2 linked regions of the Homo sapiens genome follow. The protein of the gene in region 2 interacts with the protein of the main gene of each other region in a biochemical or structural test. Each region holds a gene or a part of one and is shown on either strand. Other genes may lie near its edges. The genes, in order: CREB1 and CCDC6.

What was found.
Region 1: the proteins of CCDC6 (region 2) and CREB1 form a complex in vitro, tested with the Homo sapiens proteins (one study listed by BioGRID).

The regions. Positions count from the first base shown.
Region 1 is NC_000002.12:207,532,892-207,540,386, forward strand, and holds part of CREB1 (cyclic AMP-responsive element-binding protein 1), read left to right. Parts: intron 1-7,495.
Region 2 is NC_000010.11:59,896,062-59,903,556, forward strand, and holds part of CCDC6 (coiled-coil domain-containing protein 6), read right to left. Parts: intron 1-7,495.

The sequences.
Region 1 (7,495 bases), on a different chromosome or scaffold from region 2:
ATTACAGGTGTGAGCCACCGCGCCCGGCCTGTTTTATTATTTATACATTCATAATTTGTGATTCTTAGCAATTCCAGGTGAAACTTCAAACTTGTATTCATTAATACTTGAACATTCACCTGGAACATGTTACTAAATTGTACTTCTGCACTGTTCCAGCCATGGATAAAAATTACAGCTGGATCTGCTTGAATCTTTTTTTTTTTTTCATGAACACCTACATTTAGAAAGCTAATAAATTACTTGACAGAGTTTGCTTGAAGAATGTTAAAAGAACACTTCTTTGGGAATTTAAAACTTAAGTGTTACCTGTTTTGAATGATTTTTTTTTTGTTTACATAAAGAGCCTGAAGAAACTTAGACACCTGATCCATAAAAATGGCACCTTTTTCTACTTTCTGAAACTCATATTCTTGATTAGGTCTCATTATTAGAAATTTTGGGTTCTTCATAGAGAAGTAGCTTTATTTCTCTCTCATTCTAAGACATTTGGTTTTGTTTGTTTGGATACAGTATGGTTATGGGGTTATAGTAAAACCAAGTATGTCTTCCTCACGTGTTTTTAAATTCTACTTTTTATAACAGAAAATTATTTTTAACCTAATGCTTACAATATATTACCGAAATTTATAATTTCATTTATTCCATAAATAGCTTATCAGATATGAGTTACATAAACTTGTTTACAGCCAGCTTGTGACATAGTTTTGCAAATATCTTGATATATGGTGTAACTTTGATGGCTTCTTTATTGAATAGAGCTCAAATCTAAATTTAAGAATGTAATGAGATGTCAAGATGGAAAAATGCAGGATTTTTTTTTTTCTTACCCATGTGTAAACTCATCTGTACTGCAGTATCACTTGAGACAGCAGTTTATGGTAATTCAAATATTTATTTGGCACTCACTGTGACAGAGAATGTAGTTGAAAGAGCATGAGGTTTGGAATCATAGGCCTAGGTCTGAATCCAAGCATTGCCACTGCTATCCTGTACCCACCCTAAAGGAATTTTGTGTCCTGAAGGAAGTTTCTTAATCTTTCTCAGCCTCAGTTTCCTTATATGTAAAATTAGAATACTACTACTTATTTCATAAGATTGCGAGATAAACATAAAGTACCTTAGGGCTACAACTAATGATAGCTAGTCCCTTAAGCTTTATTTTAACTTCCTACCTGTGGGCCCTTAGGCAAGTTATCTTAACTTCTTAATACCTCACTTTCCTTTCTGATCAGTGTAGAACAACTACCTCAGAATTGTGGGGGTTAACTATAAAGTAATACATACTAAGTCCCAGGCATTGTGCAAGTGTCAAGTGCTCAAGTGTTGACAAGGCTTTTTTCTTTTGTTTTAATTTTTTTTTGAGACGGAGTCTTGCTCTGTTGCCCAGGATGGTGTGCAGTGATGCAGTCTCAGCTCACGGCAACCTCTGCTTCCTGGATTCAAGTGATTCTCCTGCCTCAGCCTCCCTAGTAGCTGGAACTACAGGCATGCACCACCACGCCCGGCTAATTTTTGTGTTTTTAGTAGAGACAGGGTTTCACCATGTTGGTCAGGCTGGTCTTGAATGCCTGGGATTATAGGCGTGAGCCACCACGCCCAGCTGGTCTGTTACTTTTTAAATTATTTATTATTACTATATGTAATACAGTGGGTCAGAAGCTACAACAAATCCAAAGATGAATTACGCTGTCTTATCTCTACCCTCAGGAACTGTTGGGGACACAGTGACTAAGGCAAAATATGTGTCAAAAGAAAGCAGTCAAAGGAAAAAGGGATCACCTTTGGTGAAGTGAGGAGTATATTTTTTATATTTCTAATTTGGTTTTTTGAATAAGTAATTCATTCACATGATCTATAATTCAAAACATAATAACAGCAAAATGCCCTACATTCTCTTGCCCTATTACCTAAGTGTTAGCAATTTTTTATTTGTCCTTTAAGAGGTGTTTTATGCAAACACGAGCAAATATGTATGTACAGTCTCCCCCTTTTTGTACAAATGGTAGCATACTAGGTATACGCTCTCCTATATCATGCTTTACCCCCACCACTTAATATGGCTTAGCAATTTTGTATCAGCACATAAAGAGCTTCTTCATTTTTTAACATACAATTGGAAGCATTTTATTATGTAAGTAGACTGTATTAACCAGTTAGTGAGCTGCTTTTATTCTTAGGTCTTATATTACCTTTTAAACTAAGGGAAACTGCCATCTTGCCTTTATTTCTTTAAATGAAAAACTTTCTATTTGAATGAAAAATAAATAGTTTGTGACAGGAAATTGTTATTTAAAGTCCCTCATTTCCTGTTTAACTCCAGTTTTTAAAAGTTTTAGTAAAATGATCAAAATGTACATGAGGAGGCAAGCAAGCCAGGTTAAGAGTTAACTCACAAGGTGAATTTAACTCTTTTGTTGAGGTTCTTACAGTTCTGAACAGACTACTTCTTTCAATTATTATTTTGGCCCAAAAGGTTTTTATAGCTTTCTTTCTTAATGAGAAAGAACATTTCATATAGTCCGGTGTTTTTTTGGGTTTTTTTTAACAGACAGCTCATGGGATATTATTACCCAGTAAGGCTGATTACTATACTAGATTTCTCCCTGCATTCATTTATTTTTTACATACTTGTTAACTTACCTTGACGATTTTCTAGTATTTCTTAATGTAATTATGTGAGTTTTATATTTTGTACCTAAATTTAAAAATAGTGAGATTCACCTATATGATTGCTGAGATGATAAACTTTACTGCATAGATGATTTTTTTACCCCCGTGGGGAAACCTTTGGTCAACCAGTTGGACCAAGTAATACGTATTTCAGCCAAAGCACAAAATGCGTTTCACTACCTTTTTTTTTTCCTCTAGCTTTTCGAAACAGCATTGAGCTACAATACTTTTTTATTTATTTATTTATTTATTTATTTTTATTTATTTATTTTTTTGAGGCAAGGTTTGGCTCTATCACCCAGGCTGGAGTGCAGTGGCACACACTTGGCTCACTGCAACCTCTGTTTCCTGGCTCAAGCCATCCTCCCATTTCAGCTTCCTGAGTGAGTGGGACAACAGGCGCGCACCACCAGGCCCGGCTAATTTTTTGTAGAGACAGAGTTTCGCCATGTTGCCCAGGCTGGTCTCAAACTCATGAGCTCAAGCCATCCACCTGCCTCAGCCTCCCAAAGAGTTGGGATTACAAGCGTGAGCCACCATGCCCGAATGCTGTAGTACATTTTAAATATACATGCTGTTTGTATTTATCTTTAAAATGTACACACTATGACTTTTTTGAGTTGATTAAACTCAGAAAGTGATTAATAATATAGCAGCAAGGGCACAAATCTCTTTCCAGAAAACATCATTAAGTAAAGCTGTCATGGGCCAGTCGCGGTGGCTGACGCCTGTGTGATCCCAGCACTTTGGGAGGCTGAGGTAGGTGGATCACCTGAGGTCAGGAGTTCGAGACCAGCCTGGCCAACATGGTGAAACCCCGTCTCTACTAAAAATACAAAAATTAGCTGGGCATGGGGGCAGGCGCCTGCAATCCCAGCTACTCAGGAGGCTGAGGCAGGATAATCACTTGGACCTGGAAGGCAGAGGTTGCAGTGAGCTGAGATTGCACCATTGCACGCCAGGCTGGGCGACAAGAGCGAAACTCTGTCTTAAGAAAAAAACAAAAGCTGTCATGGTATATTTCGTTTTTTGTATTCCCAAGTTGGTGTTTATGCGTTGATCATATATACAAAGTTTTTAATGTAAGAATATTGTTTTGAGGTTTTACTAATATTTGATTTAAAATATTACTATGTGCTATTTGGCCAGGCGTGGTGGCTCACGTCTGTAATCCCGGCACTTTGGGAGGTCGAGGCGGGCGGATCACTTGAGGCCAGGAGTTTGAGACCAGCCTGGCCAAGATGGTGAAACCCCATCTCTACTAAAAATAGAAGAATTATCTGGGTATAGTTGTATACGCCTGTAGTCCCAGCTGCTTGGGAGGCTGAGGCAGGAGAATTGCTTGAGCCCTGGAAGTGGAGGTTGCAGTGAGCCAGTATCACCCCACTGAACTCCACTCTGGGTGACAGAGCAAGATGCCATCTCATAAATAAAATATTACTGTGTGCTATTTGTACCTGCTAAATGATTAAAATGTTTACAAAGTGCTTTGTTGTTGTTGTTGTTGTTGAGACGGAGTCTTTCTCTGTTGCCAGGCTGGAGTGCAGTGGTGCGATCTCAGCTCACTGCAACCTCCGCCTCCTGGGTTAAAGCGATTCCCCTGCCTCAGCCTCCCAAGTAGCTGGGATTACAGGCGCCTGCCACCATGCCCAGCTAAAGAGACAGGGTTTCACCATGTTGGCCAGGATGGTCTCGATCTCCTTGACCTCGTGATCCACCCACCTCTGCCTCCCAAAGTGGTGGGATTACAGGCGTGAGCCACTGCGCCTGGCCTACAAAGTGCTTGTCTTTACATATTTGGGGATGGGGGTGGGGTAGATCATTGAAATCTGTAAAGGCAGAACGTTTTTTATCTGGAACATATCTGTAGACTAACAGAGTTAAATGATTTCCCACAGTGTCATGGAATCATCAGTGGATTGCCTCTTGGGGTGGAGGCAAAGATCATTAAAGCAGCAAACTGATAATGTGAACGTGGTTGTTTTTTCTCTGCCAATTAAATATATGCTAGTTTAGTCATTATAGAAGAGCCAGATGCTGGTCAGCTTGTTGAAGTTGTAAGTAGAAGGTGTGGTTTTATCACATCTGTAAATGTAGGTTTTTGAGACAAAACTTAAATAAGAATAGACGTTAGTTTTTATTCACATTCAGAATGTCTGACTCCCCTTAATATATACACACTCTTGTCTTATCTACTGGGTTTTTTTGTTGTTGTTTTTTGTTTTGCCTTTTCTCTCTCTCTTTTTAAGCTCTGCCAGACAAGGCCCTATGAAGATAGGTTTTACAGGTTGAGAATCTTTTATCTGAAATTCTTGGGACCAGAAGTATTTCCAGTTTTGGGTTTTTTCAGATTTTAGAATATTTGCATATACATACATAATGAGCTATCTTGGGGATGGGACCCAAGTCTAAACATGAAATTTGTTTCATATACACATTATACACATAGCCTGAAGGTAATTTTATACAAAATTTTTAATAATTTTGTGCATGAAACAGTTTTGACTGTGAACTGTTACATGAGGTCAGGTGTGGGAATTTTTCATGGCATCATGTCAGTGCTCAAAAAGTTTGAGATTTTGGATGTTTTATTAGGGATGCTTACCCTGTATTATATTTTGCCCAGATGTTTCCTCATTTGTCTTCTAGGCTACCAGAAAGATGTTAGCTTAGAAAAACGTATTCTGGCGTTTATTCCAACAGATGAGAAGGCAGTTTCTCCAGTGATGAATAATTACCTATAATTTAATACGTGCATTATACATCTCCAGTGATGAAAAATCACTGTGTATTAAAAAATTCTTGAAGCTAGGTACATAATCTCAACTCCTAAAAAAGAAAATAAACAGTAGTACTCCTTGATGAACTTACAGATGCTAAGTTGCCTTTTCTTAGAGTTGAAATAAGGTGATAAAGGAGTTTACCGTGAGACTAGCTGTGTGAACAAAGATGAAAAACACCCTTTCAGTTTTCTTCCTCTTGGATGATTCTAGGATCTCTAAAAAATAATCTTAAAAGGGGCGAGGTTTTGAGAGGATGAGGTCTAAGGAATTGATGGTGAGTTTTTTCTGAAAGAAGAGAAGTGACATTTGATTAGATAAGAAAGGGTTAAAAGGGAAGTTATTAATAAAATAGTTTAGGAGTAGAGTGGATCTGAAAGTTGACTTATACCAATGATGATAGAATGTGTCTTTTCCCAAAGGTTAGTGCATCTTCTCTGAAATGAAGACGTTTCTTTCATCAATTTTAAGTGAATTTCTAAGGATCTGGTTATCTACTTGTGAGTTTTTGGTTGTAACTGTATGACAGTACAGATGTAACTAAAAATGTTTGTAATTTACCCAAGGTTAAATAACCATTATTTTTGAGGGCTGTTATCCCTGTTGGTATAAGTAAGTAGTTGGCAGTAGGGGACACAGAAATACCTTGTTTTTCACCACTGAAGTGAAAATTACAGATTATTCTGAATTATTTGTACTCTTTTTTTTTTTTTTTGAGAGGAATCTCGCTCTGTCTCCCAGCCTGGAATGCAGTGGTGTGATCTCGGCTCACTGCAACCTCCGCCTCCTGGGTTCCAGCGATTCTGCTGCCCCAGCCTCCCAAGTAGCTGGGATTACAAGCATGTGCCACCATACCTGGCTAATTTTTTTTTTTTTTTTTTGTATTTTTAGTAGAGACAGGATTTCACCATGTTGGCCAAGCTGGTCTCGAACTCCTGACCTTATGTGATCTGCCTGCCTCAGCCTCCGATTACAGGCATGAACCACCGCCCCCAGCCCTATTTGTACTCTTAAAGGGGAGTCATTTTCTTATAATAAGTATCAGTAGTAGCTCTATTGTTTGCTGTGATCAATGGTGACACCTTGACTTTATGTATTGCCATTTATCAATCATTTATTCAGTGAAGATTTATTGACCATTGACTTTATTATGGTTGGTGAAATAATCGCAAGAAAATTTATTCAGTTAGGTATTTATAAAAATACCTAGGTATTAAATGAAGATTGTTCTAGTTGATATAAGCAATAAAGCCTGACTATATGGCTCCTACCCTCAAGAATCTTACGGTATAGTAGGGATGATGAAATAGTGTAAGAATGATTTATATGTGCCAGAGTACATGACAGAGTTTTTACTGTCTTGAAGAGCTACAGAGTTCAGAAGAGAAGGGGCTTAGTGAGGAAAAGTTTTGTGGGAGAAGTAGAATTCAAGTTGAATACTAAAGAACTTCAGTAAGTACAGATAAAATGGAGTGTATTCTAGGCAGTGGAATGGACAAAAAAATGAAAACATGGACATATAATGAACTTGACATACTCATAAATTGGTGAAGAAAGTATTAGATTATAGATCTACATTTTGAGGAATGCTGAGTATGAGGCAGGGAGCTTTGAGTTTCATGTAAGAGAAGGTAAGATATAAACAGGAATACAATGATAAATTGGGCTGAAATGTAGATTTCCTGACTCCCAATTCTTCTCCTTAGTGTAGACAGAGATATACAGTCATGCACTGTATAAGAACGTTTTGGTGAATGACAGATTGCATATACAACAGTGGTCCTGTGCTAGTGTAAGCAAACCTATTAAGAACTTCAGATAGGTCCTTCAGGAGGTATTCCAGAAGAAGGCATTGTTACCATAGGAGATGACAGCTCCATGCATGTGATTGCCCCTTGAAGACATTCCAGTGGGACACGTTGTGGAGGTGGAAGGCTGTGATGTTGACAATCTTGACCCTGTGTAGGCCTAGGCTAACGTGTGAATGTCTTTTTAACAAAAAATTTTAAAAAGTGGCCGGGAATGGTGGCTCACGCCTGTAA
Region 2 (7,495 bases):
AGAAGCTCCACAATGAAAAACGTTCCTGGACTCTGCCCTATATGCTTTTTCCCTTGACTGATTTTAACCTGCATCCTTTCCCTGTAATAAACTGTACCTGTGAGTATAAAAATAAGTAATTTAAAAAATAAAATTACAGTTTATTCCAAATGCTATCAAGGAAATTAAATGCATACATTTCATTAAAAATAAAAAATAAAAAGCAACCATGATCTGTGAAGTGTTGGGGGTAAGATATGGGGGGATGACCCTTCCCTCCTGGAGGACAAGCTCTTGCCATGGGTTATTCCCTCATCCAGCATCTCCACATCTGGGTGCTTACTGGCACCAAGCCCAGAGCTGGGCGTAGGGCTAGGGCACTGCACATTTGCTGAGTGACAGAAAAGAACCATATATGGGACAGCTAACAGGCAGTACAAACTTAAGTTAAAATAAGACATCAACACTTAAGGTCCAAATTTATAACTTCAAGACCAGGACAGTAAAAAGCAGCTAGCAGCTTTTGTAGACCAGAGTAAGTCTTTCTTTAAAAAAAAAAACAAACAAAAACAAGAACAAAAACAAACAAACAAAAAAAATTAAGTCACTAGGAATAGAGGTTTACCAGGGAGGAAAAAAAAATGGGTGTTATTGTTTAATGGGTACAGAGTTTCCTTTTGGGATGATGAAAAGTTCTGGATATGGATAATGGTGATGGTTGCAAAACACTGTGAATGTACTTAAAGCCACTGAATTGTACACTTACAAATGGTTAAAATGGTGAATTATATGTTGTGTATGTTTTTATCACAAAAAAAAATGCAAAAAAAGTCACTGGTACTCTTCTCTGGGTACCTAAGGTATTTCACAATATAAACCCCATGCATGCAAGGCTCAAAATGGCATAAAACAGTTAATATACTTTCCAAGGGACATAAACCCTTACCAGGTAGTGATTTGAACCTGAAGAAGTCTAACTCTACTTTATGGAGAATACACTTAAAACAGTACTCTTTGGTTAATAAAAACAATAAAATCACCTAGTCAATTTTTTCCTCAAAGATTAGTAGGGCTACTAAATGAAGTGAAGACACGATGTTTTGACTCAACGGATGTCTTTGTTTAGATAAACTCTGGTCTAGTGAAGAACTCCACCCCACAAAAAACATCTCTCAGTAGAATAAAAGTTATCATTTGAGTTGGTATATTAGGATAATTTTTTTTTTTTTTGAGATGGAGTTTCACTCCTGTTGCCCAGGCTGGAGTAAAATGGTGCAATCTCGGCTCACCGCAACCTCCACCTCCCGGGTTCAAGCGATTCTCCTGCCTCAGCCTCCCGAGTAGCTGGGATTACAGGCATGCACCACCATGCCCAGCTAATTTTTTGTATTTTTAGTAGAGAAGGGGTTTCTCCATGTTAGTCAGGCTGGTCTCAAACTCCCGACCTCAGGTGATCCGCCTGCCTCGGCCTCCCCAAAGTGCTGGGATTACAGGCGTGAGCCATCACACCTGGCCTATTAGGATAATTTTTAAAAAGTCAAGCTTGCATACAAGTAATTTCATGAGTTGAAAAGTTATCTATATGAAACTCCAGGTATAATTATTTTTCTCTCAGATCTGTCCCTTTTAGCCTCTCTAATTCAATCTCAACAAGCAGACAGCACAAAAGACTCAAACTGTTCACTTATAGAAGCAACAGGTGAAGTGTTTAACACAGGTAACTAGATTTCTAAGAATTTTCTTTAGGTCACCCATAATCCCTGCTGCTTTCATTCTTTTACTCTCGTCCTTCCTCCTATGGAAAACTTTTTGAATGATGACTTATGCCTGGCTGAACATCCCAACTCTGCTCTGCAGTACCAAGTGGCCTCATTTGATCCTCAGTGCCCTGAGATGCCCTGGTGGGTATTACCCAGATCACTTTGGACACACACCTGGCACCACAAGGCTGGATTGATCTGGAACAGATGCATGGAAGATTAGCCCATCAATCAGCACTGCTTTTGTAAAAAACTAGAATTCAAAATTTCCTATAAAATAGTACCTCTAATTTTACTGCAAGAAGTCTTTGCTTTCAGATAGTTTCGGATTAAAAACTTGAGAAATTCCGTCCATCCACCATTATTCCATGAAAGAAACAGGAATAGAGGGAAAAAAACCACCTAGATAATTTCCATGTACTGACAGATGCAGATTATGAAATTAAAATATCAATGACATTTCTTTTCAATCATCATCACATAAAAACAAAAATTAAAAACAAACCAAAAGCCTCCCAGTGCCACCTCAGCATAAATTGAGCAACAGCTCTCCCCATCTCTGCCTTACATAATAAACTACAAGCTAATTAAACTGTGAATGAATGTGATAACTTGTTACCCTTAAAGATATTCACAGAGATAGATGAACTTCATTTTGGAAGCTGGAAGGTAAAATTCCCCTCCCTGGGAACCCCTACAGGAGTCGGCCTAAGCTTCCCTTCCTGCATCCATGTGTGTGTTGGTTCCTTCTGCACTGCACAATCCCCAAGGCTGGAGAGAAAGGCTGTTTCCCTCTGCTCTGTATTCCCTACAGCACCAGGCCAGGGCCAGGCTGAATGAAAGTCAAGTGCAATCCTCGCTATGCTACCGGGAGAGCCCTAACATTCCTTTTGGATATTTGTATCCAGCACACAGTATTATAAGCACTTGACAGCTGAATCCTGCCTCTTTGAGGCTATATTTATTTTATTTATTACATGCCATTTTGTACCTTACTGAAGAAACAAAGGCGGGGGCAGAGAGGGGAGACCAGAAAAATCTCCCAGCAAAAAACAAATGAGTATTGTAATGAACTATAATCATTAAATTGCACTCCATATGTCTGATCCAGGAACCAATAAGTAAAGGGGAGGGTTAATTCTAAATGACCATCAATCATATTGTTAAGCCTTTTTTAAAAGAATACTTATCCCTAAAGAGAGAACCTACACAAAGTGACCTTTGCAATTTACTGGTATCAGGGTTGGAATAGACTTCACAGCTGTGCATTTCACAGCCATAAAAGATAAGAAAATTTGACAGCCTTGGAGAAGTAGGAAGAATCTGCAAGTTAACACCACCCCAAGATCCTCACAATTAAAAATATTTTCCAGAGGATTAGTTCCTCTGTCAAGAAAATTGCAACCATCACCAAGCAGGAACATATTGAACCTGTGAACATTTACTCTGCCAACTTTGACAATTCAATATACCTGAAAACAACCACAATGTGATTGAAAACAAAAAGCAACACCTACCCACTAAGGAAAAAAAGTATGCAGAGAGGACAGAAAAGATTACCATTATTCCTTACTCAGCCTGACTGCAGTTCAGTAGTTTGGATTAGCATTTTGAAGTGTAAACACAATTATTTCGGCAAGGCATGATTTAAGGAAAACACACACACACAAATACACTGTGGTGACACTTGTGTCTCTGCAAGACACAGCAGACGTAAGAATTCAACAATCCCCCTACCCTGTTTTCAGATGCTTCCCCCATCACTGCTACAGGTCACCAGTATTTATTTGCATTACTGCATCCCCCTGCAATGGGCCAGAGTTGTTTCCCAGTGGTGCATTTCAACATTAAAGAGTCATAGGAAACACCTGGAATGATCTGCCACCATCACCAAAACCAAGGCAGCAAATCTGAACACTTCCAATGGGGCTACTTTTTCCTCCAAGCCCTGCTCAGAAACACTTAGAAAGGAGAACCTGAAAATACTTTGTCCCCTTTCAGATAAAATGTTATCAGGAACACCCAGGTGTATGCTGCAAGGTAGCCCACATCACCCAAAGCTAGAAGGCAAGGGCACACTGATTGCAATGGTCCCCCAAAGTATACAATGCATCCATTCACATATCTGGTCTGTTTCATCAACTATGGTAAAGAAAGTGTTTGCTGTTGTGGCAGGGGAGTGGCTCTATGAAGACAAGGTCCCAGAGAGAGTGTTGGCACCTTCATCACAGAAAGAAACAAGTACATACATACCCGTGCCTCTGGAGCCAGCTCAACAAATTTCTGGGTGTTTCTCACATGCCAAGCACTGAGGAATGTGATGAACAAGGCAAATTCTGCCCCCAAAGAAATTTACACATGAACCGGGAAAGATCTCGATAGTCGAGTGTCAGTGACGTGGGGTGGGGGGGGTGGTGTCTATGGAACCACGGAAGTAGGTGCATACCCCAGTAGCAGGTGCATACCCCGGTGTGTGGCTGACAAAGAGGAAGTATCAGGGCATACCAGGAAGGGGTTCAGGTGGAGAAGGCAGTACAGTCTATTTCAACTGACAAGGTAGAAAAGAGGGGAGGAATACAGAAGAACATTTAAGGGGACGAGCGGCACCATTGAGGAGCCAGAGGAAATCTACTGAAGTTCTGGGTGCTAGTAGTAAAGGAGTGATGTGAGAGCTTAGAGAATGCACACTGGGCTAAACGCATGTAAGAGGTGTGGCTGTGAAGCAAGCAGGGCATTCCAATCATGCAGAGCCTGGTAAACCACCAGAAGGTTCACCTGGATCCAAGGACAATGGGGAGTCATTCAATATGTTTAAGCAAGCAATGGCTACCTTCAATTTTTGCTGTAGACCAGCCTCTCTGGTCCTGAACAAGAGTCACCACAAACCAGATACTGTGAATTCTCTAATGATTCCCCATCTCTAGCAAATAGGAAGCACTGTAAAAGACTGTCATGACCTTTAAAATTTCAGCTTTTGGCTGGGCATGGTAGCTCACACCTGTAATCCTAGCACTTTGGGAGGCAGAGGTGGGTGGATCACTTTAGGCCAGGAGTTCTGAGACCAGCCTGGACAACATGGTAAACACCACCTCCACTAAAAATACAAAACTAGGTGGGCATGGTGGCGCATGCCTGTAGTCCCAGCTAGTAGGGAGGCTGAGGCATGAGAATCACTTGAACCTGGGGGGCAGAGGTTGCAGTGAACTGAGATCGCACCACTGCACTCCAGTCTGGGTAATAAAGCTGTCACACACACACAAAAAAAACAAACGGTTTTTAAAAATTAAGTACAAATAGAGTATATGAAACACATAGAAGATACTTACAAATGTGAAAAAACTCGTAAATGCTGAAGAAATAGGAGAATGGCCTCTTTAAGAAGACTTGTGTACAGTTAGACCTAACTGTGAGGTCATATTTTCCTCAAAGTTGTGTCTAAAGTTGTGTGTTTCCATAAGAATCTAAGAAATACTTTTCTAAACGGGGGGAAAAAAGACATCACACTCTCATCGTCACATTTATAAAGGCAATATCGATTTGTAGCTTCAGAGTCTGACAAAAGTCTTAAAAATTGAAAATAACATATTAGACTTCCAGAGTAAATAATCCAAAATATACAACATCAACTATATGGCAGATTTTATTGGTTAATGAAACCATTACACTGTTGATGTTTAAAATAGCCAGGTTTTCTAATCATGCCAGACCAACATATTTTTCTATTATAACTTCAAAACACCTTGTACTTCTGTATTTCCCTTAACTTCTACAATAAAGGATTAATTTTACAGTCAGAGAGACACTTAAATATCAGTGATTTATTATAGGCCTTGATTTCCAAACCAAACACATACCAAAGGTCTGAAACTGCCTGGAAGAGGTACACACCCTAGAGAACCACCTGAGGCCCTGCTTATACACGGAGAATGCCAGCAACTAGCTGAGAACTTTGAAGCCATCCAATTACTGCCCACAATTGCATTTCCTCACCTTCTCTAAGACCACCACCCCACAATAACCCTCACTACACTGAATCATATAATCCACAATCACATTCTCACTCATAGGACAAACCAACAGATCTGGCCTAACATACAAAAGCTACTCAAAAAGGTGACTATGCATTTGTTTATTTCCCCTACTCCAAAAAAAAGAAATTATGATCTGTAATCAGTAGCCTGATTCCCCTGCTGACTTCATGGGGAAAATTGAATAATCACTCAAAATATTCTATTCCACTTTTAAGCCCCAAATAAAATGGCCTAGGGCAGGCTATAACTCACAGGTGCACTGGGCGCTTGTGGACACGACTGAAAGACTGCTTACTGTTGATTGTCTCCCACAGATGATGTTTACCACTATTATACAGATACTGAGAACACAGGCCCATGAAACTAGTCGTTCATTAAATGGGTAGTTTGACCAGAATAGCCGCTTACATACCAGAAGAGACCATTGGTTAAGAGCTTCTATTAGCCTTTGGACTTGGCTTTAAAAAGGGCATAACAGAGATATTACTATACACCTATTGGAATGGTCAAAATCTAGAACACTGACTACAGCAAATGTTGGTGAGCAACAGTAACTCTTTTTTTTTTTTTTTTTTTTTTTGAGATGAAGTCTGGCTCTGTCACCCAGACTGGAGTGCAGTGGTGCGACATTGGCTCACTGCAACCTCCACCTCCTGGGTTCACGCCATTCTCCTGCCTCAGCCTCCAAAGAGGCTGGGATTACAGGCATGCAACACCATCCCCAGCTAATTTTTCTGTATTTTTTTCAGTAGAGATGGGGTTTCACCATGTTGGCCAGGCTGGTCTCGAACTCTTGACCTGAGGTGATCCGCCTGCCTTGGCCTCCCCAAAGTGCTGGGATTACAGGCATGAGCCACCGCGCCCGGCCCCGCCAAAGCAACTCTTATTCACTGTTGGTGGGAATGAAAAACGATGCAGCCACTTTGGAAGACAGTTTGGCAATTTCTTATAAAACTAAACATACTCTTACCATATAATTCAGCAATCATGCTCTTTGGAATTTACCCAAATGAACTGATATCTTTCCAGACAAAACCCTTCATATGAATATTTCCAGCAGCTTTATTCATAATTGCCAAAAGGTGGAAACAACCAAGATGCCCTACAGGAGGTGAAGAGATAAATTATGATACATCCAAACAATGAAATACTATTTAACTCTGAACAGAAAACAAGATATAGGAGTTGGGGAACATGGAAGAAACTTAAATGCATTTACTAAGTGAAAAGTCTGCATACTGTATGATTCCAACTATATGACATTCTGGAAAAGGCAAAACTAAGGAGAGAGTAAAAAAAATCAGTGGTTGCCAGGAGTTTGCAGGGAGGGAAAGATGAACAGAGCGTGGAAGACTTCCAGGGCAGAAAAACTCTGCGTAATACTATAATGGTGGACACATGTCATTATACATTTGTCTAAACTCATAGAATATACAAGACCAAGTAAACTCTAGACTTTGGGTGATAATGATGTATCAACGTAGGTTCACTGACTATAACAAATGGACCACTATGATGAAAGATGTTGATGGTGGAGGAGGCTGTGCCCGTGTGAAGGCAGGGGTTACGTGGGAAATCTCTGTACTTTATGTTCAGTGTTACGTGAAGATAAAAGTGCTCTAAAAAAATAAAGTCTATTAAAAAACAAAACAAGTCGGGGGAAAAAAAGAGCCCGGCTCTTCCCCAGGGTGTGGCAAAAAGGCAATGTGTCTTCCTGAACTTGCT